Regions from separate parts of the Homo sapiens genome. Here region 2 is linked to region 1. The links come from fine-mapping of genetic effects on gene expression. A gene starts in region 1. The other region holds a variant in brackets. All regions are shown on one strand. Distances are from middle to middle. Region 1 holds the start of ADAP2 (ArfGAP with dual PH domains 2). Region 2 overlaps RNF135 (ring finger protein 135).

Region 1 (12,437 bases):
GTGCTCTCTGTGATGGTATCCAGTGCTTTCCTGGATCCACCTGCGCACCAGGCCCATAGAAGAGACCACCACAGATGAAGACACCAAAGATGGAGAGGGGGAGGAGGTGGAACCAGGACAGACCCCTCACCCAGTCCCTAAGGAATCACCCACTCACAGGCAGTCGTTGGCCTGGGGGATGTAGTAGAAAGCTGGGACTCTGGCTTCGAACTTGGCCTTCACACGGAGGTTTCCATTGTGGATCATAAACTGCAAGACAACAGCAACCTGAGGTAATATTAGAACTTGAAAAAACGTGAAATGAAACTATGAGGCCACTGACTTAGGCTGAGTCAGAAGAAACTGCCTCCAAGAAGGAGATGTCCCACCGGGCTTGGTCATCCATACTGCTGGGAAGCCCCAGCCTGTAACAATCATGGGCAGATATAACCATGCCTCATATGGGCACAGGACTCCACAGTGCTCACACATCAGCTCACTGGGTCCTCTCAGCCATTTTCATATCACTGTACTCATTTTACAGATGAGTCAACTGAGGCTCAGACGGGTTAGGTTACTTGTTCAAGGAAACACAGCTATAAGTGGAGAACTGGGATTTGAACCCAGACCTGACTCCAAAGCTCATATTCTTCCTATCATGCCTTCCACAGATGGCCAGGACCCCTAGCAGCCCTGAAAGTCTGCAGGAGATAAATGTACCTGGAGGATGGAAGAAGTGGGTGCTCGCCTCATGGAGTGCATAGGTCAGGATGATTAGTAGGGCCCTTTGGCACCCAAGAGACCCAGAGGCTGATGCACCAAAAGTGGCCCTGGCAGCAGTGGCATAGCTAGGGTGAGGGCAGAAGTGGGAAGAAACACCAGGTTTTCAATTCACATCGCTTGGGCATCTCCTTTGCAGGAGAGGAGCATTGCTCCTCTTCTCCTCTGCAGGGGCCGCTAGGCTGTGTCGCCAGCTTTGGATCCCAACAGAGCAGGATTCAGATCCTGACTGCCATTTATTTGATGAGTGACCCTTGGAATCTCACCCGTAAAAATGAAGAAAATGGCCAGGCACAGTGGCTCACACCTGTAATCCCAGCACTGTGGGAGGCCAAGGCTGGGGATCACTTGAGGTCAGCAGTTTGAGACCAGCCTGACCAACATGGTGAAACCTTGTCTCTACTAAAAAAATACAAAAATTAGCCAGGACACAGAAAGGTGAGGCAGGATAATTGCTTGAACCCGGGAGGCAGAGGTTGCAGTGAGCCGAGATTTTGCCACTGCCCTCAAGCCTAGGCAATAGAGCAAGACTCTCTCTCAAATAAATAAATAAATTAGCCAGGTATGGTGGTGCACGCCTGTAATCCTAGCTACTCAGGAGGCTGAGGCACAAGAATTGCTTGAACCCAGGAGGAGGAGGTTGCAGTGAGCCAAGATCACACCACTACACTCCAACCTGGGCAACAGAGTGAGTGAGACTCCGTCTCAAAAAAAAAAAAGAAAGAAAGAAAAGAAAAGAAAAGAAAAGAGAAGAAGAAGAAGAAGAAGGAAGAAGGAAGAAGAAGAAGAGGAGGAGGAGGAAGAAGAAGAAGGAAATATAACAGAGGATTGGGCGCTGTAGCTCACACCTGTAATCCCAGCACTTTGGGAGGCTAAGGCAGGTGGATCACCTCAGGTCAGGTGTTCAAGACCAGCCTGGCCAACATGGCGAAACCCCATCTCTACTAAAAATACAAAAAATTAGCCGGGCATGGTGGCGGGCGCCTGTAATCCCAGCTACTCAGGAGACTGAGGCAGGAGAATCGCTTGAATCCAGGAGGTGGAGGTTGCAGTGAGCCGAGATCGTGCCACTCACTGCACTCCAGGCTGGGTGACAGAGTGAGACTGCATCTCAAAAAAAAAAAAAAAAAAAATGCTGGGCACGGTGGCTCACGCCTGTAATCCCAGCACTTTGGGAGGCCGAGGCGGGTGGATCACCTAAGGTCAGGAGTTTGAGACCAGCCTGACCAACAGGGTGAAACCCTGTCTCTAGTAAAAATTCTACTAAAAATACAAAATTAGCCGAGCATGGTGGTGCATGCCTGTAATCCTAGTTACTCAGAAGGCTGAGGCACAAGAATCGCTTGAACCCCAGAGGCAGAGGTTGCAGTGAGCCAAGATCGCATCATTGCACTCCAGCCTGGGCAACAAGAGTGAAACTCCGTCTCAAAAAAAAAAAAAACAAAAAAAACAAAAAAGAAAATATAACATGGGAGTTATAAGGTGCAAATAAAATCCTTCAGGTTTATGTGCTGGTTTACTGGTTTCCAGCCTTTCTCCCACACTAGAATGTAAGCTCTGTATGGCCAGGGACCTTATCTTGTTCATTGTTCTCTCCCAAGACCCAGCACTTAGTAAGGTCACACTAAAGCCTCCAGTCCGGTGCTGTCTAGCACAGTACCTGGCACAGAGTAGGCATTCAGTAAATGTCAGCCTGCTTCCCCAATAGTCCTGGAAACCCTCAGCCAACCCGCACAGTGCAGAACTGCCTGCTCTCTGGAGGTTTTCTGACCAAAATGGAATTACCATGCAGGCTGAGGGTATCCTCCACCCCCAGAGGGCAGGAGAGCAAAGTGGTCCTCTTTCTGCCTAGGGGGAAAGGAGGACTTTAGACCACAAATCAGGTTATTTCCCTTCCCCCAGTCCAAGACTTCACTAATGATAACAGCAACTTTTTTTTTTTTTTTGAGGTAGGGTCTCACTCTCACCCTGGCTGGAGTGCAGTGGTGCGATCTCAGCTCATTGCAGCCACACTCTCACAGGCTCAGGTGATCTTCCCACCCCAGCCCCCGAAGTATCTGGGACGACAGGCGCATGCCATCACACCCAGCTAATTTTTGTATTTTTTGTAAAGACGGGGTTTCACCATGTTGCCCAGGCTGCTCTTGAACTTCTGGGCTCAAGCAATCCACCAGCCTCAGCCCCCCAAAGTGCTGGGATTATAGGTGTGAGCCACCACACCCGTACAACAGCAACTGTTAACTGACAGCTTTCTTTGTGTCTGGACTGAGCCTACAATCATCTTCACAACAGTGCTGTGACATTGGTGGTAGTGGCCAGGCACAGTGGCCCACGCCTGTAATCCCAGCACTTTGGGAGGCCGAGGAGGGTGGATTACCCAAGGTCAGGAGTTCGAGACCAGACTGACCAACATGGCAAAACCCCGTCTCTGCTAAAAATTAATACAAAAATTAGCGGGGCATGGTGGTGGGTGCCTGTAATCCCAGCTACTCAGGAGGCTGAGGCAGGAGAATTGCTTGAACCCAAGAGGCAGAGGTTGCAGTGAGCCGAGATTGGCCGTTGCACTCCAGCCTGGGCGACAAGAGTGAAACTCCGTCTCAAAAAAAAAAAAAAAAAAAAAAAAGGAAGAAAGAAAAAAAGAGAAATGGTGGTGGTATCCCTTGAATACAGATGTGGAAACTGAGGGTCCACAGCTAGGTCAAAGTACCTAGCTCAGGGCCTCCCAGCTTATAGGTAAGCAAATGATGGCCAGGAGCGGTTCAGGATGGTTCAGGCCTGTAATCCCAGCACTTTGGGAGGCTGAGGTGGTGGATCGCCTGAGGTCAGGAGTTCGAGACCAGCGTGACCAACATGGTGAAACCCCGTCTCTACTAAGTACAAAAAAATTAGCCGGGTGTGGTGGCAGGCGCCTGTAATCCCAGCTGCTTGAGAAGCTGAGGCAGGAGAATTACTTGAACCCGGGAGGCAGCGGTTGCAGTGAGCCAAGATTGCTCCACTGCACTCCAGCCTGGACAACACAGCGAGACTCCGTCTCAAAAAAAAAAAAAAAAAAGTAAGCAAATGATAGAGCCAGAATTTGAACTCTCGGCCTCTGTCTAAGCTGCCATCTTATAAGCTGTGTTTCCTCTAGCTAGACTTGCCCCTCTCTGGTTCTCAGTTTCCCCCTCTGTAGAATGGGAGCCCCCTGCCCGCTGCCTCTACTCCAGTCCCGCAGTTCCATGGCTCTCCACGGGCATGCCTTTCTACCTCCACAATACTGTCGTCCCAGAAGTCAAGTCGCACAGATTTAACTCTGCTGATGTCAGGGAAGTTACGGTGGACGCCGCAGCAGTTGAGACAGATGAAGATCCCCAGCTTGTAAGAGGCCCAGTCGGGATCTGCAGGGGATGAGGCAGGAGAGGAGCTGAGCGGAAAGCGCGGTGAAGAAACCAGGGCTGGGCTCGGGGCACTGGGGCAGGTGGGGCGCCCCTTCTCCCACCTAAGGCGAACTAAGCGGCCAGCCTGGCACCTTCTGGTTAGCCCACCGGCCGCTGCGCGGCGACCGGGGTGAAGATCCTGGAGGCAGTTCAGGGCCCGGGGAGAGAGTCTGAGGCTGCGCGACGTGGAAGTGAAGGGACTCAGAAGGAACCGAGAGGAGGGCGCGGGGGGCGCACCGCGGGGCTCGGCGCGGAGCTGCAGGTGGGGAGGCTGAGTTAGGGGGCCCTCGGCGTCCCCGAGGTGGGGCGCTGGGGAGGCCTTCGGGGGGCGTCTGGGAGCGGGCAGGGGGCACAGGACTGTCGGCGGCCTGGGCCCGACGTTTAGCCCTGGCTGGGATGTCTGAGTCCGAGGGCGTGGGGCGCGCCTGGGTGCGCAGACATCGAGAGCCCGGACTCGGGCGGTCGGGTGCCTGGCCAGGGAAGAGAGCGGGACTGGAAGGGCTCTAGGCTGCCGGCTCTCGTGTCCGGGTCCAAGCACGTGGGAAGATGCGCATCTGGTCCCGCGAGGGGAGCAGAGCCTGGGCTCGTAGGGGCCGGGGCAGGGTGTGGTGGAGACGGCCCTCGGGGCTCGGGTGAGAGGTTCACGGTGTGGGTGGGAGGGGTCGGGGCCCGCAGGTGCCACGTCTGGGTCCAGGGGGCCGAGGGCGGGACCCGGTGGGGCCGAGGGGAGGAGTCGGGTGGGCCTGGGGTCCGGCCGGGGGTCTCGCGCTGCCCGCGCCGCCGCGCCCTTACCTGCCGCCCCGCAGTCGGCGCAGTGCGCGTTGCCTGTGTCCGGCGCCCGCAGCAGCTCCAGCAGCCGCTTCTTGTTGCGCTCGCGATCGCCCATGGCCGGCCCGGCGGGCTCAGCGGGGCTCAGCCCATGGCCCGTGCGCTCCGCCCGGCAGGTGGAGAGGGACCCGGCCGCGGCGCCTCAGCCAGGCCTGGGCAGCCGCCAGCCCCGCCCCGCACCGTCAGGACTGTCCGCCCCTCCCTCGGCAGGTCCAGTCCGGCCCCGAGCTCCGCCGACGCGCGGGGAGGGACAGGAGCACGCAAATTGGAGTTTAACACACTGGCCTGAGATCAAATCGTGGCCTGTCACTTGGTAGCTACGAGACTGTGGACAACCTATTCAACCTCTGTGGGTCTCAGTTTCCGCGTCTATGAAAGAGGAACAAGGGCATATGTCTGCATCTCAGCGCTTCTTGGAAAATTAACCAGAATCTAACTTCTGTTAAAGCGTTCTGTTAATGTAAGATCTTACATCTATTTGGAGACGTATTTATATGCAAATGCCACCTCCTCAGGAAGCCCTCTGTGATACCCTGCCTGGAGTAATCTTTCCAGCCTCTGGGTCTCCAAGAATACTCTTGTAGTATCTGTCTATTTGTTTTGGACCTGAGCACTTTCTATCTACCTTGCATCACGGTTATTTATATACTTGTGTTAATTCCACTCTCTGACCGCAGACACATACACATGTCCACACCAGGGAGTTTGACGTCAGCAGTTTTATGTCTGTATTCCATATTGCTCCTATAAATGATACCTGCACATTTTTAGAAGTCCAACTAATAGTTGCATGATTTTGTTCACCAGAAAAGTGTGGTTTCACCAAGGTGGACACAGCCAGGCACTTTAACCTGTGAAGTTCCATCACCGCGAGGTGAAGGCAGGGTATAGGTGGTCTTAAATGTGGGCATTTCATTTCCTCTTTCCCTCTCTCCCATCTTTGTTACTGCTTGACATCATCTTCGTTACTCCTTGACATCATCTGCAATGACTCATGGGCCTCCTGGTGAAATATATACTGTACATACTTGCCATCTTCTATGTAGGTTAATACCTTAATGCACACAGATGCATTAAGCCATATGCATATGATAGACAGGTGTTAACCTTCAGGATAAAATCAGGTTTCCATCCTGGTGAATTGCAGCTGATGTTCTAGCTGACCTGCCCACACTCCCATTCAACATACATGCGGGCGCAAGCACACACGTGCACACACACGCACAGCAATATGGTGTAATGGAATGAATTCAGGAATCCAGAAATTCAGGCTTTAAATGTTGACTCCTTCATTTCCACATTTCCCAACTGTTTGTCTCTGGGCAAGTTCCTTCACTTCTCTGAGCCTCCAAACCCTCAACTGTTAAATGGAGAGCGTAAGATCCACTAATAGGGTCATTGAAATGGCACAAAGAAACCCTCCAAACATGGTGGCCTCCTTGCTTCCCCTGCCCCTATGGTCAGCTTGTGGAATTGTCGCTTGGAATGCTGTGTGTGATTCCCGTCATCCCTGGGGTGGAGGAGGTCAAGCTGCCAGGACTGAGCAGGAAGGGAGGGTGGAGAGTATTACCAAGAATAGCCAGCCATGAGGGGGTCTTGCCTGTGAGGGGGTGAGGCCTAGCCCAGGAGCAGCCACAGAGGAACCAGTGAGAGAGTCAGCTGGGGTCAGGGGGCATGGGGCTGTTTATTAAACCGGCTGAAAGATGATTCATTTCCGTTGCTTTAGATGAAAAAAGGGACAGAAATAAATCTCCCAGGAGAAAGATGGGAAAGTCAACTTAAGGTATGAAGGCAAAGGAAAGAGGGAGAGAGGGAGAAGAGGAGACAAGCTAAGGACATTTCTCCTCTGCCCAACACTGGGACAAAATTGTGATGCTGGGGGTGCTTCCTCGGCACCCGAGCCTTCACCAGTCTGTGCTCCTTTGCTTCTCTGACACCTTAGGTCTCACTGCCACCTCCCTGTAGGTCCCACAAAAGCCAACCCAGTTCTAAGTAGGCTCTGGTTGAATCTCAGAAACTTTAAAAAAAGCCGGGCGCAGTGGCTCACGCCTGTAATCCCAGCACTTTGGGAGGCCGAGGGGGGCGGATCACGAGGTCAGGAGATCGAGACCATCCTGGATAACACGGTGAAACCCCGTCTCTACTAAAAATACAAAAAAATGGCTGGGTGTGGTGGTGGGCGCCTGTAGTCCCAGTTACTTGGGAGGCTGAGGCAGGAGAATGGCATGAACCCAGGAGGCGGAGTTTGCAGTAAGCCGAGATCGCACCACTGCACTCCAGCCTGGGCGACAGAGTGAGACTCTGTCTCAAAAAAAAAAAAAAAAAATTAAAAAAAAAAAGAAAAAGAAAAAGAAAAAAAATAGCCAATCCAAGAGAACATACAGTATCTCATTCATAGTGAGGAGCCAGAGATTGAGAGATTCCTTTAGTTTCCCCTCTTCCCTTCCTTATTTCTGGAGGTTCCCATCAAACAGCCTTAATGTGGCATTTCAGGCATCCTCAGAGCAAAACAATGTACTCTGGTATTTTGTTTATAATGCTTTCTTTTCTTTTCCCTTCTTTTTTCTTTTCTTTGTTTCTTTCTTTTTTTTTTTTTTTTTTTTTTTTTGGTGGTGGTGGTTGTAGGACAATGCTAATGAACAATTACTGAGTGTTTTTTTTACAAGAGCGTCACACATTTGATCATATTTTAGCTTCATGACACCCTCAGAGGGCAGCATCACATCAGGCCACTTTACAGAAGAGAAAGCTGAGCCTCAGAGGATTTAAGTTACCCAAGGTCATGGAGCCAAATAAGAAGCGGAACAGGGCCTAAATCCAGATCTCCTACTGTGGCTCAGTCAGTCCCAGGTGATTTCATGAAACCTCCCTTTAGTGCATTCTGGACTTTTTTTTTTCTTTTTTTACTTAAATTGTGGTTCGGTTAATAAGGTTGCTCCAAAAAAAAAACAAAAAAAAAAAAAAAAAAGAAAAATATATATAAATTAAAAAATTGTGATAAAATCTAAACACAAAATTTGCCATTTTAACCATTTTTTTCTTTAGAGACAAGGGGGTCACTTTGTCACTCAGGCTTGAGTGCAGTGGTACAATCAGAGCTCACTGCAGCCTTGAATGCCTGGGCTCAAGTGATCCTCCTGCTTCAGCCTCCTGAGTAGCTGGGACTATGGGAACGTACTACCAAACCTGGCTAATTTTTTTATTTTTCTATTTTCACAGAGACAGAGGCTTGCTTTGTTGCCCAAGCTGGACTCCAACTTCTGGCTTCAAACAATCCTCCAGCCTCAGTCTCCCAAAGCTTTGTGATTACAGGCATGAGCCACCATGCCCCACCCATCTTAATCATTTCTAAGTGTACAATACTATGTCATCGATTGCATTCAATTATATTCACAATGTTGTGCAATTATCCCCACTATTTTAACAAATATTTAATTGACAAAGAAAGATTGTATATATTCAATGTGTACATGATTTGACATATGTGCACATTGTGTAATGATTCCCACAATCGCATTAATGAACACATCCATCCCCATCCATACTGCACCTTAGATCCCCAGAATTCTTCTTATAATTGAAAGTCTGTACCCTATATTTCCTCCACTATTTATTTCCAAAACTTTTGCATCAACCTAAACAGAAACTGTAGCCCCGGTCTGGGCAACACGGTGAAACCCTGTCTCTACAAAAATTACCAAAATTAGCTGGCTATGGTGGCACATGCCTGTAGTCCCAGCTACTCAGTAGGCTGAGGTGGAACGATCGCTTGGGTCCAGCAGGCAGCGGTTGCAGTGAGCCACAATCACGCCACTGCCCTCCAGCCTGGGCAACAAAGCAAGACTCTGTCTCAAAAATAAAACAAAACTCTGTAGCCCACTCCTGGATACTGGACATTATGAAAATTGAGCTCAGCTTCTGTGCTCAGGACCCAGAAGCTACTTCTAAGTGAAGAGGACCATGCCAAAGGCTGTCATGACCAAGGTGGACACTGAGCACTGTGACCCAGAGTTTGAGGGACAGGATGGGTCAAAGCAGCCTCTCTAAAGGGCTCAGTCAATACAGCAGATGCTGGAGTGAGGGAGCAATTTGGGCTGTGGGACAGAATGTCCTTTGTAAATAAAGCTCCCAGGGTCCCACCAAGAAGAAACATCTAGCCCTGTTCTCAGGTCACTGTGTTTGTCCAGCCAAGCCAAGCTGCAGCAGGGCTGGAAGAAAGCCCTCAACCACATTCCCAGTAACAGCCTCAAGGTCCCCACTCAAGATCTTCAGGGCATAGAACACAATTCCTTTGAAAATTAAATAATTGGCTGGGCACAGTGGTTCACACCTGTAATCCCAGCACTTTGGGAAGCCGAGGCGGGCAGATCACCTGAGGTTAGGAGTTCAATACCAGCATGGCCAACATGGTGAAACCCCGTCTCTACTAAAAATACAAATATCAGCTAGGCGTGGTGGTGGGTGCCTGTAATCCCAGCTACTCGGGAGGCTGAGGCAGGAGAATTGCTTGAACCCAGGAGCTGGAGGTGGCAGTGAACCAAGATTGTGCCACTGCACTCCAGCCTAGGTGACAGGATGAGACTCCATCTCAAAAAACAAAAACAAACAAAAAAATTAAATAATTATGTTTATTAGCTTTAGAATTAAAAAAAGCTATATTACAGGAAATTTGAAAAATACAGTAACTAAAGAAAAAACCACCACCCACAATTATGGCCACCATTTATTCTGGGATTGCAGTGCACCAGACCCCTTACATGCATTATTCCATTTAATCTTAGCCATAACCCTGAGGTACAGACTATGTTTATGCCCATTTTACAGATGAGACTACTGTGGCTCAGAGAGAGGGTAAGTACATTTGTCCAAGGTTACACAACTGAGATGTTGTATACTGAATCATGCATACTGAAGCTGGGATTTGAATTCAAGTCTGCCTTGGACTCTTTTCACCAATATATTAGGTTGAACCACATGAAACTGACTTACAAAAATGGCAATAGCAATGCCATAAAGTTCAACCTAACATTATGCTTCTTTTTTTTTTTTTTGAGACAGCCTCTGTCCGTCTCGCAGGCTGGAGTGCAGTGGTACGATCTTGGTTCACCGCAGCCTCTGCCTCCTAGGTTCAAGCAATTCTTGTTCCTCAGCCTCCCAAGTAGCTGGGATTATAGGCATGTGCCACCACGCCCAGCTAATTTTTGTATTTTTAGTAGAGATGAGGTTTTACCATGTTGGTCAGGCTGGTCTCGAATTCCTGGCCTCAAGTGGTCTGCCTGCCTCAGCCTCCCAAAGTGCTGGGATTACAGGCATAAGTTTGAGGCAGGCAGATCACCTGAGGCCAGGAGTTTGAGATCAGCCTGGCCAACATGGCGAACCCTGGTCTCCACTAAAAAAAAAAAAAATACAAAGAAAATTAGCTGGGCATGGTGGCGTGTGCCTGTAATCCCAGCTACTCGGGAGGCTGAGGCAGGAGAATCGCTTGAACCCAGGAGACAGAGGTTGCAGTGAGCCGAGATCACACCACTGCACTCCAGCCTGGGCAACAGAGTGAGACTTTGTCTCAAAAAACAAAACAGACTAAAACAAAAAACTGTATTTTCAAGCATTATATTCTACTACTCTACTGTAATTGCTTGCTGGTTTACTGGTCTGTCACACTTCTATGCTTCATGAGGACAGGGTCAGTTGTGTTCTCTGTTGTATCCCTAGCACCTGCATGCCACATAGCAGGGTTTCAACAAATGTTTGCTAAATAAACAAAGAAATGAGGATCGGTAAAAAATAATAATCAATAAAGTGAGAGGACTTGGGATCACAAAGTGTTTTCCTTTTTGAAGGAAACAAATAATTCCTTTTGAAGGCAAGTGAAACAGCTGATAAGGAGCCATGCAGAGTAAATAATGTGATTGAGTTGACCAACATATTTGTGTGTTTAATATCACCTTGTCTTCAGCAACTGGAACCACTCAGATCTCAAAGGGACTCCCCACTGCAGTACTGCCTCAGGGTTTGCTCATTCGTTCATTATTTATGGGGCACCTACTATGTGCCAGATACTGTTATGGGTACTGAGATATGGCCACATAGCTGGGGAAATAGCTGCCTTTGTGGAGCTTACCTTCAAGTTAGGGAGACAGGAAATGAACAGAGAAACAAATATACAATATAGTGCAAGAGTGATACGTGCTATAAAGAAAAAGAAACAAGTGAGGGGATAGAGAGGAATGAAAGTTGCTATTTCAATAGAGAGGTCAAGGAAGTCCTCTCTGAGCAGGTAACATTTAAGCTCAGATCTAACATTTAAGATCTGCAGGAAGGGGTCAAGCCAACCAGCAGCAATTTGAGAGAGGAGTGTCCTAGGGGAAGAGAACAACCTGGGCAAAGGCCCTGGGATGTGCTTGGTGTGTGATCTGTCCACATCCTTTGAACACAGAGCTATCCAACTCCATGCCATTGTATCTCGCTCATGCTGCCCCTTCTCCTACCCCAGCTCTCTCCTCTACAACATCATCCAGCCCAGCCTCCATTGGTTGGTGGAGCAAACTCCTGCCTCCATGCCTAAATTCAAGTCTTACTTTTGACCAGGTGCAGTGGCTCACGCCTGTAATCCCAACACTTTGGGAGGCCGAAGTGGGCTGATCACCTGAGGTCAGAAATTCGAGACCAGCCTGGCCAACATTGCAAGACCCTGTCTCTACCAAGAATAGAAAAATTAGCTGGGCATGGTGGCATGTGTCTGTAGTCCCAGCTACTTGGGAGGTTGAGGCATGAGAATCGCTTGAACATGGGAGGTGGATGTTGCAGTGGGCTGAGATTACTTCACTGCACTCCAGTCCGGGAGACAAAGCGAGACTCCTCAAAGAAATCTGACTTCTTCCAGCTCACCCTCATCCCCCTGAACTATGTTCCCAAAATGTTCATATTTCCATTACAATAGTCATCACGTTGGACTATGGTTGTTTTTTTTTAACTTGTTTTGTCCCAGTCAGCGTGATTTGGTTAAGAGCAGATTGTCATATTGATCTTTGTATCCTTGGTGCCTAGCAAATGCTGGGCCTGAAAAATTTTGGTTGATCCAGTTTTATGAAATGTCCAGAACAGACAAATCCATAGAGACAGAAAGCAGATTAGCGGTTGCCAGGAGCTGGAGGGAGTGGGCTTGGGGGCAGAGGGACTGGGAAGAGACAGCTTAATGGGTAAGGTTTCCTTTTAGGGTGTTAAAAATGTTCTGGAACCAGGGCTGGGCGTGGTGGCTCACGCCTGTAATCCCAACACTTTGGGAGGCCGAGGCAGGCAGATTGCTTGAGCTCAGGAGTTTGAGACCAGCCTGGCCAATGTGGTGAAACCCCGTCTCTACTAAAAACACAAAAATTAGCAAGGCATGGTAGCGCACGCCTGTAATCCCAGCTACTCGGGTGGCTGAAGCAGGAG
Region 2 (12,437 bases), 67 kb before region 1:
GGAAAAAAATTTTTTAAAAAGCATTTGCAAAACCTACTGAAGTTATTTACTTTTTTTTTTTAAATTAACACTCCCTAATACTTTTTTTATCTCTATTGATGAGAGAAATAATCTACACTTAACCATGGAAATTTTTTCCAAAGAATCATGGTTCTCCAGTTAAGAGCAACATTTTAAGCAGAGCAATATCATTAAACATGAAAATGCTATGAGATATGTCTCTAAAGTGGCACTACACAAATCTTACTTAAAATTCACTAGGGGCTCGGTATGGTGGCTCATGCCTGTAATCCCAGCACTTTGGGAGCCAAAGCACAAGGATTGCTGGAAGCTAGGAGATCAACACCAGCCTGGGCAATAAAGTGACATCCCTGTCTCTATTTAAAAAATAAATAAGGCCAAGTGCTGTGGCTCATGCCTGTAATCCCAGCACTTTGGGATGCCAAGGCAGGCAAAGGCAGGCAGATCACCTGAGGTCAGGAGTTCAAGACCAGCCCGGCCAACATGGCGAAACCCCATCTCTACTAAAAATACAAAAAGTATCCAGATGTGGTGTCGGGAGCCTATAATCCCAGCTACTCAGGAGGCTGAGGCAGGAGAATTGCTTGAACCCGGGAGGCGGAGGTTGTGGTGAGCCGAGATCGCGCCACTGCACTCCAGCCTGGGCAACAGAGTGAGACTCTGTCTCAAAATTAATAATAATAATAATAATAATAATAATAATAAACAAATAAAACAAAATGCACTAGGATACATGCTGAGATATACTTGAAGTGAGTCAAAGATTTAAATGTAAAACATGAAACCAAAGATTTAAATGTAAACTGTGTAAGTACAAACACACACATATACCTGAGAAAATTCCTTTCTAAACTTCAGGGGGTTGAGTTTTCTAACTAAAACTTAAAATCTACAATGCATAAAAGAAAAAATGAACAAAATTTACTACATGAAAATAGAAGCAAGACCTCTTCTCCACAAAAAAAATAAACAAAAAATTAACTGAGTGTGGTAGCGCCACCTTGCAGTCCCACCTACTCAAGCAGCTAAGGTGAACTAATTGCTGGAGCCCAGGAGTTCCAGGCCAGCCTAGGAAACATAGCAAAACTCTGTCTCTACCCAAAAATACAAGAATTAGCCAGGTGCGGTGACACGCACCTGCAGTCCCAGCTACTCAGGAGGCTAAGGAGGGAGGATCACTTGAGCCTGGGAGGTCAAGGCTGGGGTGAGCCATGATCGCACCACTGCACTCCACCCTGGGAAACAAAGTAAGACCTTGTCTCAAAAAATAAAAAAGAAACATTTAGAGACCAGGAATTGCCACAGCACTCTAGTCAACCAGTCTAGGCAACAGAACAAGACTCTGTCTATTGTCTCTAAAAAAAAAAAAAAAAATTGAGGCCAGACATGGTGGTTCACACCTGTAATCCCAGCAATTTGGCAGGCAGAGACAGAAGGATTGCTTGAGCCTAAGAGTTTGAGACCAGCCTGGGCAAAACAGTGAGATTTCATCTCTATAAAAAATTATGTAAAGGCCGAGCGCAGTGGCTTACTCCTGTGTAATCCCAGCAGATTGGGAAGCCAAGGCAGGTGGATCACCTGAGGTCAAGAGTTTGAGACCAGCCTGACCAACATGGGGAAACCCTGTCTCTGCTAAAAATACAAAAATTAGCCAGGTGTGGTGGCACAGGCTTGTAATCCCAGCTACTTGGGAGGCTGAGGCAGGAGAATCACTTGAACCCAGGAGACAGATATTACAGTGAGCCAGATCACACCTTTGTACTCCAGCCTGGGCAACAAGAACGAAACTGCTTCTCAAAAAAAAAAAAAAATTACATAAATTTAAAAATGTCTATATGGCATTATAAAACCCATAAAAGATAAATAAAAAGACAAATGACATATTAAGGAACAAAATTTGCAATTCATATAACAGACAAAAGTTTAATCTCTTTAATTTACAAAGAGCTCCTAAATGTCAATTTTTAAAAGACCAATAACACAAGATATGAAAGACAATTCATGGAGAAACACAAATTAAAAGTGTAGTATAGGCCGGGCACGGTGGCTCACCCCTGTAATCCCAGCACTTTGGGAGACCGAGGCAAGCAGATCACCTGAGGTCAGGAGTCTGAGACCAGCCTGACCAACATGGTGAAACCCCATCTCTAAAAGTACAAAAATTAGTGAGGCCTGGTGGCAGGTGCCTGTAATCCCAACTACTCAGGAGGCTGAGGCAGGAGAATCACTTGAACCTGGGAGACGGAGATTGCAGTGTGCCGAGATCGGGCCACTGCACTCCAACCTGGACAACAAGAGCGAGACTCAGTCTCAAAAAAAAAAAAAAAGAAAGAGAAAGAGAAAAAAAACGCGCAGTATACTCTCACGTCAATGTATTTTCTTGAGTCAGAGTTTCATTCTTGTTGCCCAGGCTGGAGGACAATGGCACGGTCTTGGCTCACTACAACCTCTGCCTCCCGGGTTCAAGCAATTCACCTGCCTCAACCTCCCACGTAACTGGGATTACGGGCACCCACCACCAAGACTGGCTAATTTCACATCAATATTTTGACCCATGAGATTGGTTTAAAAAAAAAGACAAATGTTTGACAACATACTCAGTTGGCAGGTTGGGGACACACACTTCTTCTGTGGGAGTGAAGACTGGTATAACCCAACTGGAGGGTGATTTGGCAATGTATATCAAAATGACAAATGAATTTACCCTATGACCCAGCAACCTTCACTGGCAATTTGAGCTACAAATATATCTACACCCATATGAAACAATGTACATACACAGTTATTGATTTTAGCATTATTTGTCATTGTAAACAATTGGAAACAATCACGTATTCATCTGCAGAGGATGGAGTAAATAAATGTTGGCATACCCAGATATTGGAATACTGAGCAACTGTAAGAGAAAATGCCCTAGGTACTAACAAAAGCAAGGAAAAATGTCCTAACTACTGTACTATAAAATAAAGATGTATAAAGTAAAAGACAAAAGCAAAATGCAGGACAATGTATATAATGTGCTATCTTTTGTGTATTAAAAAAAGATTGGGAGAAATAAAAATATAAATTCATATTCGCTGACATTTGCATAAATAAATTCTGAACAGACACTCAAAAAAACGGTAATAAAAGTGGTGCACTGAGAAGAGAGAATGGGGCAATTGGCAAGGATGGAAGAGAGACTGGGCAGTATGCCCTTTTTATACTGTTTTTGTTTGTTTGTTTGTTTGTTTTGAGATGGTGTTTCGCTCATCACCCACACTGGAGTGCAGTGGCTCACTGCAACCTCTGCCTCCCGGGTTCAAGCAATTTTCCTGCCTAAGCCTCTGGAGTAGCTGGCACTACTGGAGTGTGCCACCACGCCCGGCTAATTTTTTGTATTTTTAGTAGAGACGGGGTTTCACCATGTTGGCCAGGCTGCTCTCGAACTCCTGACCTCAGGTGATCCACCCTCCTTGGCCTCACAAAGTGCTGGGATTACAGGCATGAGCCACCGCGCCCAGCCCTGTTTTGATTTTTGAATATGAAATTTTAAATTTAACCCCCCAAAATTTAAAAATTGATCTTAAATTTGTATAAATAAAATCACTAAGGAACCCAACCTAAGTTTAGAAGCACACAGAATACAAAGGTGCTTCTTTCTCAGATAATTTTTGGAACAATAAACTGCTCTCTAATTGTTTTCCTAAAGAAACTTTTTCCAAGGAATCATGCTTCTCCACTTACATAAGAAATGATTCTTTTTTTTTTTTTTTTTTTTTGAGACAGAGTTTCACTCTTGTTGCCCAGGCTGGAGTGCAATGGTGCAACCTCTGCTTCCCAGGTTCAAGTGATTCTTGTGCCTCTGCCTCCTGAGTAGCTGGGATTATAGGCACCCACCACCATGCCCAGTTAATTTTTGTGTTTTTAATAGAGACAGGGTTTCGCCAGGTTGACCAGGCTGGTCTTGAACTCTTGACCTCAGGTGATCCACACGCCTCGGCCTCCCAAAGTGCTGGGATTACAGGCATAAGCCACTGCACTGGCCAGAAATGATTTTTTAAGTAGCATAAGATTGTTTAAATATGAAAATATAAAGGATATAAAAGCTATCAGAAGAGGAAAAGCTACAGAAGAAATGCCTCTAAAGCATATGAAGATAGCAGTGGCCAGAGCAGGAGGAAGAACCCTGGGAGACCAGACAGAGCTAACGTCTAATGTCTGACAGGAAGGTGTTAGTTATTTTTCAATAACTCTGGAAGAACAACAGAGAAACTACAGGATCAGGACAGAAAGGTTCTTTTCTATATGGTACTGTTTAATATTAACATTAACACACTCCCCAGAGATTATATTTTAATAGACTGTATCAAGAACTAGTTACAAAGTGGCATGCTGGTTTTGTTTGTAGACAAGATCTCCCTCTGTTGCCCAGGATGCAATGCAGTGGCATGATCACTCAGCCTTGAACCCGTGGCTCAAGTGATCCTCTAGCCTCAGCCTACAGAGTAGCTGGGACTACAGGTGTGCACCACCACATCTGGTTACTTTTTATTTTTTGTAGAGACAGGATCTCTCTCTGTAGTCCAGGCTGGTCTTGAACTCCTGGCCTCAAGAGATCCTCTCACCTCAGCCTCCCAAAGCACTGGGATTACAGGCGTGAGCCACTGCACTTGGCCTATATGCTTTGTTAAGAAAGACATTTACAGCCAGGTGCAGTGGCTCACGCCTGTAATCCCAACACTTTGGGAGGCTGAGGTGAGCCTTGCAGTCAGGAGTTTGAGACCAGTCTGTCCAACATGGTGAAACTCTGTCTCTACTTAAAAAAAAAAAAAAAAAAAAGAAAGAAAGAAAAGAAAAAAAAAACCAACGCAAAAATTAGCCAGGCGTGGTGGCGCACGCCTGTAATTCTGGCCAAGATCGCACCACTGCACTCCAGCCTGGGTGACGGAGTGAGACTCTGTCTCAAAATAAAACAAAAACAAAACAAAATTATTAAAAAAAAAAAAAAGAAGAAGACATTTACTAGTTAAAAATTTAAGGCCAGGCACGGTGGCTCACGCCTGTAATCCCAACACTTTGGGAGGCCAAGGCGGGCAGATCACAAGGTCAGGAGATTGAGACCATCCTCGTTAACATGGTGAAACCCCGTCTCTATCAAAAACACAAAAAATTAGCCAGCATGGTGGCGGGCACCTGTAGTCCCAGCTACTGGGGAGGCTGAGGCAGGAGAATGGCATGAACCCAGGAGGCAGAGCTTGCAGTGAGCCCAGATGGTGCCACTGCACTCCAGCCTGGGCGACAGAGTGAGACTCCATCACAAAAAAAAAAAAAAAAAAAAAAAAAAAAATTAAAAGTGGCCTATTTCAGAATCTCTGCAGTAAGATAACACACTTGATCAGTAAGGACCTGTGTGCATGGATCTTCAAAAATGAGTTTCTATCTATTAAGGACTTGTGATACATCACACCTTCAGTCATTGCCAAAAACATATTCAGCCACAAAATCACTTCAGCCCACCCCTACCTGATTCACGACACCACAGTGGTAATACAGCTGGACTCTGGGATCCTATCCCCAGAGAACAAAGC[C/G]ATAGAGCACTCTGCTACTCCCCCCAACTTCCATATTTAATCCTCCTCCAATAAATAAGATCAGCTCACCCTGCATTTGTGCTTCAGGAGCCTCTTTCCAGGTGACGCTTTCTTGTAATTTTTCCTGAATTTCTTCTAGGTCATGGAGAATATCTCTGATTTTCCCTGCAGCTGTGTCGGAAGTCACCAGCTTTGGAGAAGCCATGGAAAGATCCACCCCAGAAGAAAAAGCCTATTGATAAACCATTTAAAACTGAATAAATGGAAGTCCCCTATGCAGTCTATCAACTATTATATTCAAGTTTTTCTATTCATCTATAATTTTCTATTTAATTCCCAGCAAGTTTTTAAAAACAAAATTAGGCCCTCAAAAAATATGCCTTGAAAAAAATCTGGAATAATTTGCTGTACATAGTACAGCAAAAATATCAAAGAGTGGTTATTTCTGGGTGATGGAGTTATGGAGCACTTTAATTTGCTTTATTTAATGCTATGTGCTTTCTAATATTTTGCACAATAAACATGGATTTCTTAGGTAATACCAAAAAAGTTTAACATTTCTAGGCGCATCTTATAGGGGCTTTATAAAATAAATACTACAGATAGTTACTGAGATAAACCATGGAGGTCAGAATAACCTTTTCGGCTAGGTGTGGTGGCTCACACCTGTAATCCCAGCACTTTGGAAGGCTGAGGAGGGTAGAACACCTGAAGTCAGGAATCCGAGACCAGCCTGGCCAACATGGTGAAACCCTGTCTGTACTAAAAATACAAAAATTAGCCAGGCATGATGGCAAGTGCCTGTAATCCCAACTACATGGGAGGCTGAGGCAGGACAATCACTTGAACCCGGGAGGTAGAGGTTGTACTGAGCTGAGAAGATCATGCCACTGCACTACAACCTGGGCGACAGAGCAAGACTCCATTTCACAAAAAAAAAAAAAGGAACCTTTTCCCACCTCTATCATTATATCATTTCACTTCGCAAGAGCTCCCTCTCAAATTGCCTGCATCCAGGTCCTGCTTTCTAGGGCCTTCAACACATGCTCCCTGATTTTCTTTAGCCTCAGGTCCTGTTCTTCCCCAATACAGCCCTTTATCTGCTCACCAACTTCAACCCCTTTCCTTCCCACCTTTGCATAATCCACTCCCCATTCTTTCCACCAATCAAAATACGGTAGTATTACACTTATTGAGTGTTTTCTACATGCTAGATATTGCCTTTCTCTCATTTGCATAACAACCTCACAAAGTAGGTTTATCAACCTGTAAAAAATCTCCGTTTTACAAAAGAAGATGAAATTCATGAAGGTTAACTAAATTGCCACAGTTAATTATAACATCCCACATTTTAACATTGCTCAAGCACTTTCTTATACCTCTTTTAATCCTCACAATAAACCAATGATGTGGCAGGCCCTGTATCATTATTTCTATATTACAGATAGGAACCTGAGACGCAGATAGATGAAATGACTTGCCCAAGGTCATAATACTAGTGAGTGACAATGTCAATTCTGAAAGTCAGACTCTCAGCGTTTCTATCCCAACACATCGCATCCCTAAAGATGGATTTATCCATACATTCAGTGGGTATTTGTTGAACCCCTACTGTAAGTGGGTACTTGGGTACTGTGCTAGCGCCTGGGGACACAATGGTGGACAAAAGAACAAAAGCATCAGCCAGGCAATGTGGCGCACGCCTGTAATCCCAGCACTTTGGGAGGCCGAGGCAGGTGGATCACAAGGTCAGGAGTTTGAGGCCAGACTGGCCAGTATGGTGAAACCCCGTCTCTACTAAAAATACAAAAATTAGCCAGGAGTGGTGGCGGACACCTGTAGTCCCAGCTACTCGGCAGGCTGAGGCAGGAGAATCACTTGAACCTAGGAGGCGGAGGTTGCAATGAGCTGAGATCACGCCACTGCACTCCAGCAAGACTCTGTCTCAAAAAAAAAAAAAGCATCAAAAGTCCCTATCCTCCTGAAGTTGAGAGTCCAGTGAAGGAAAAGGGAGGGGGGCAGACATTAATATAGAGTATGGCACAAGACATTACAAAGGTGCAATGGTGATAACCACTACAAATGAAAGGTACATGGAGTCCTCAGAGCCTCTAATGGGGAGATTTGATTTGTTCAAGGAAATCATTGAAGGCTTCTTTCTGAAGAAATGACGTTCTAGCTAGGATCTGAAGGATGAGCAAGTATTACCTAAGTGATGGAGGGAAAGGAGAGCATTCCATGAAGGGTGCCCTGTAGTGGGAAGACGTGAGACACACTAGAGCGACTGTGCGGCCAGTGTAGCTAGAGCGCACAGAGCCAGGCAGCATGAGCAGAGATGAGATTTGAGAGGCAGACAGAGATGGGATCCTACAGGGCTTTGCTGGTCCTGTGAGGATTTGGGTCTTACTCCTGAGCAAACTGATGTAATTTGAATGTTTTAAGCAGATGAGTTACATTTTCAGATTGATGTTTGTGGTAGTCACTGTGATGACCATGAGGAAAACAGACTAGAAGAGGGAGAGTGGAGCATTTGGAAGACTATGACAGCAATCCAGACATGAAATTATCAGAGGCTTGGATTAGAGCAAGTCTCAAAGGAGCTCAAGAATAAGTAAATAGATTTGAGAGGTAATTAGGCAGGTCTTAAAGCTACAATATGCTGCATATTAGGGTAAGGGAGAAGAAGGTAACATGATTTCCAGGTCTCTGGCTTCTGTACTTGGAAAGATAATGGGGCAAGCATTGAGATGAGAAATCCCAGAAGAGGAGCAGTTTAGGACGCATTAAGTGTGATGCTTTGAGATACCCAAGAAGAAAAGATGAGAAGGAAGACATAGCAGCCTAGTGCTCAGAGAAGGCTCCAGCCTGGAGCTATTATTTGTGCATAGAGGTGGTCATTAAAGCCATGGATGCAGGGAAGACTACCTGCAGGGGAAACAAAGGGACCTACAACTCAGCCTTGAGGAACTCCAGCATTTAATTCCTAAGCAGAGGAGAGAGAGCCTGTAAACAGACTGAGAAGGATCAGCCAGAGAGAGGTGGGGGAAAGCCAAAAGATTCCTGTCCCAAAAGCTAAGAATGAAGGTGTGGTCCACAGTGTCAAAGGCTGCTGAAAGGTCAATGAAGACAGGCACCAGAACGCTTATAGAGACAGGCACCAGAACGTTATACACAGAGGTCACTGGTGATCTTAGAGACAGCTTGTTAGGTGGAGTGATCCTAGCCCATCTGAAGCTTCCCAACCTTACCTCAAGCATTCCAAATGTCCAATCATCCATGTCTGGTAGTAAAGAGAACAATAAAAGATTGAGACTTATTGTATCCTTCAGGTTCAAATATGTTCATGTTGTTCCAGTTGAAAGCAATCCCTAGCCCTATTCCCTTCCACATCCTTTCCTCTCCCAGTGGAGCCTACCTTGCCCAGGATGCTCAGTTCGTTGTCTGGTCCAGATTCTGATAGGGGCCTCTGATTCTGCAGGCTTCTGACAATGTCTACAAGATGTTCCACCAGCTCTGTCAGCTCCTGAGCAACTTCTGTGATGCTCTTCTCTACTGCCACCTTCAAAATAGCAAAGTTCAGGTCCTGGGTTCTATAAAACTGGACCCAGGAACCACCACTAGACAGAGGGAATCATAAATACTGTGGTAATGGCATAAAAACAGACATACAGACCGATGGAATACAATAGAGTACCCAGAAATAAACTCTCACATATATAGTTAAATGATTTTTGACGAAGGTGCCAAGACCATTCAATGGAGAAAGGACAGTTTTTTCAACAAATTGTACTGTGAAAACTGGATATCTATATGCAAAAGAATATGGCTGGACCCTTACCTAACATCATATACAAAAACTAACTCAAAATGGATCAAAGACCTAAATGTAAGACCTAAAATAATACAGCTGTTAGAAGAAAACATAGGGCAAAATTTATGACATTGGATTTGGCAATGATTTATTGTATATGTCACTAAAAGCACAGGCAACAAAAGAAAAAAGGAGACAAATTGGACTACATGAAATGTTTAAACATTTGTGCATCAAAAGACACGAACAATAGAGTAAAAAGGCAATCCACAAAAATGGAAGAAAATATTTGCAAGTCATACATCTGATAAGGCATTAATACTGAGAATATACAGAGAATTTCTAAAACTCAACAATAAAAACATATCACTGCCGCTTGTTTGGTTGGTAAAACAAACAAGCAAAAACCCACAAACAACTGAATTTTGAAATGGGCAAAGAACTTGAATAGCTATTTCTCCAAAGAAGATATACAAATCACCAATAAGCACATGAATAGACACTCAAGATCACTAATCACTAGGGAAATGCAAATCAAAACATACAGTGAGATACCACCTCACACTCATTAGGTTGGCTACTATCAAAAAAAAAAAAACCAAAATAACAAATGTTGATGGTGTGGGAAGATTGGAACCCTCTGCACTGTTGGTGGGAATGATATAGCCACTATGGAAGACAGAATGGTGGCTGCTCAAAATATTAAAAATAGGCCAGGCGCAATAGCTCATGGCTGTAATCCCAGCACTTTGGGAGGCCGAGGCGGGTGGATCACCTGAGGTCAAGAGTTCGAGATCATCCTGGCCAACCTGGTGAAACCCCATCTCTACTAAAAATACAAAAATTCACCAGGTGTGGTTGCAGGCACCTATAATCCCAGCTACTTGGGAGGCTGAAGCAAGAAAATCTCTTGAACCCAGGAGATGGAGGTTGCAGTGAGCCAAGATCATGCCACTGCATTCAAGCCTGGGCGACAGGGCCAGACTCCATCTCAAAAAAAAAAAAAAAAAATATATATATATATATATATATATATATATATATGTACATATATGTAATTAGAATTACCATATGATTTAGCAATTCCACTTCCGGATATATAAGAATTGAAAACAGGATCTCAAAGAGATTCATAAACTCATGCCCATAGCAGTATTATTCCCACTAGCTAAAACATGGAAGCAACCCAAGTATCTGCAGACAAATGAATGAATAAGCAAAAAGTGGCATATACATACAATAGAATACTACTCAGCCTTAAAAAGGAAGGGAACTCTGACACATGCTACAACATAAATAACCCTTGAAGACATTATGCTAAGTGAAATAAGCCAGTCACAAAAAGACAGATACTGTATGATTCAACTTATATGAGGTATTTAGAGTAGTCAAAATCAGAGACAGAAATTAGAATGATGGTTGCCAGAGGCTGGGGGAAGAGGAAATGGAGAATTTTAATGTCCTCCTAGAATTCCACTTTTGCGAGTTGAAAAGAGTTATGGTACCCTGAAGAACCAGTCATGTTAATTTAAAATTTTTTAAAGTTATGGAAATGATGGTAGTGATGGTTTCAAAACATTGTGAATGTATTTCATATCACCAAACTGTATACTTAAAAATGGTTTAGGGCCAGAGAGAAGTGGGGGAAAGCCAGAAGACTTAAGGGTGGAGAGGGCAGAGCAAGATAGCCAAATAGAAGGCTCCATTGATCATCCCTCCCACAAGAACACCAAATTTAACAACTACACAAAAAAGCACCTTCATAAGAACCAAAAATCAGGGGTACTTACAGTACCTGGTTTTAACTTTATATTACTGAAACAGGCACTGAAGAGGGTAGGAGAAACAGTCTTGAATTGCCAATGCAACCCATATCCCATGTGTCAGGGGCCACATGCACAGAGAATCTGTGCACTCAGGAAAGGGAGAGCATGGTGATAAAGAGAATAGAAAGACTTTGCCTTGTCGCTTCACAAAGCAAAACTGGGCTGAATTCAGCTGACGCCTACCCACAGAGGGAGCATTTAGATCAGTCCTAGCCAGAGAGGAATCAAATCACCCACCCCAGTTATTGGAACCTGAGTTCTGGCAAGCCTCTCCACTGTGGGCTGAAGTGCTCTGGGGCTCTAAATAAACTTGAAAGGCAGTCTAGGCCACAAGGACTGCAACTCCTAGGCAAGTCCTAGTGCTGAGATGGGTCTCTGGACCGGCCCCGAGCCTGGGTGAATGTGCCACCATGAAGGGAAGGACACAAGCCTGGCTGGCTTTGCCATCTGCTGATTATAGAGCCCTAGGTCCTTGAGTCAATATAGGTGGTAGCCAGATAGTGGTTAACAAGGGGCTTGGGTAAGGCACAGTGCTGTGTTGGCTTTAGGTCTGACCCTGTGCAGTTCTAGTGGTCATGGCCACAAGGTGCTTCTGTCACCCCACCTCCAGCTCCAGGCAGCTCAGCACACAGACAGACTGTTTTGGAGAACGTATGAGAAGAGAACAAGAATCTCTGCCTGGTAATCCAGATAATTCTTCTGGATCTTATACAAGACCACCAAGGTGGTACCTCTAGTAGTCTGCAAGAGTCACAGCTTTACTGGGCTTGGGGTGCCCCCTAATGCAGATACGGCTTAGATCACAACGCCCAAGTCCTTTCAAATTCCTGGAAAGCCTTCCCAAGAAGGACAGGTACAAACAAGCCCAGACTGTGAAGACTACAATAAATAACTAACTCTTCAATGCCCAGGCACTGACAAACATCCACGAGCATCAAGACCATTCAGGAAAACATGACCCCACCAAACTAACTAAATAAGTCACCAAGAGCCAATTCAGGAGAAACAGAAATATGTGACCTTTCAGACAGAGAATTCAAAATAGCTGATTTAAGAAAACTCGGAGACATTCAAGATAACAGAGAAGGAATTCAGAATTCTATCAGGTAAATTTAACAAAATGATTGAAATAATTAAAAATCGGTTAAGAGTCATCACCACGCTCTCCCTCTCCCTCTCCCTCTCCCTCCACGGTCTCCCTCTGATGCT

Evidence for each region. PIP is the estimated chance that this variant, and not a neighbour inherited with it, causes the effect.
Region 2: its variant is the best candidate, but not a certain one, in a credible set for the expression of ADAP2 in whole blood (TOPMed, PIP 0.56).

The regions. Positions count from the first base shown.
Region 1 is chr17:30,914,639-30,927,075 of GRCh38, reverse strand. It overlaps ADAP2 (ArfGAP with dual PH domains 2), which reads right to left and starts at 5,131. Exons shown (of 11, transcript NM_018404.3): 1 at 4,968-5,131; 2 at 4,006-4,136; 3 at 158-249. The coding sequence starts at 5,061. RefSeq lists silencers at 4,441-4,600, 4,761-4,810, 4,951-5,390.
Region 2 is chr17:30,981,330-30,993,766 of GRCh38, reverse strand. It overlaps RNF135 (ring finger protein 135), which reads right to left. Exons shown (of 5, transcript NM_032322.4): 2 at 9,007-9,150; 3 at 5,661-5,823. Among named protein-coding and RNA genes, the nearest start is that of RNF135, 17 kb to the right of the region's middle. The variant C/G (reference allele first, on the strand shown) is at 5,592.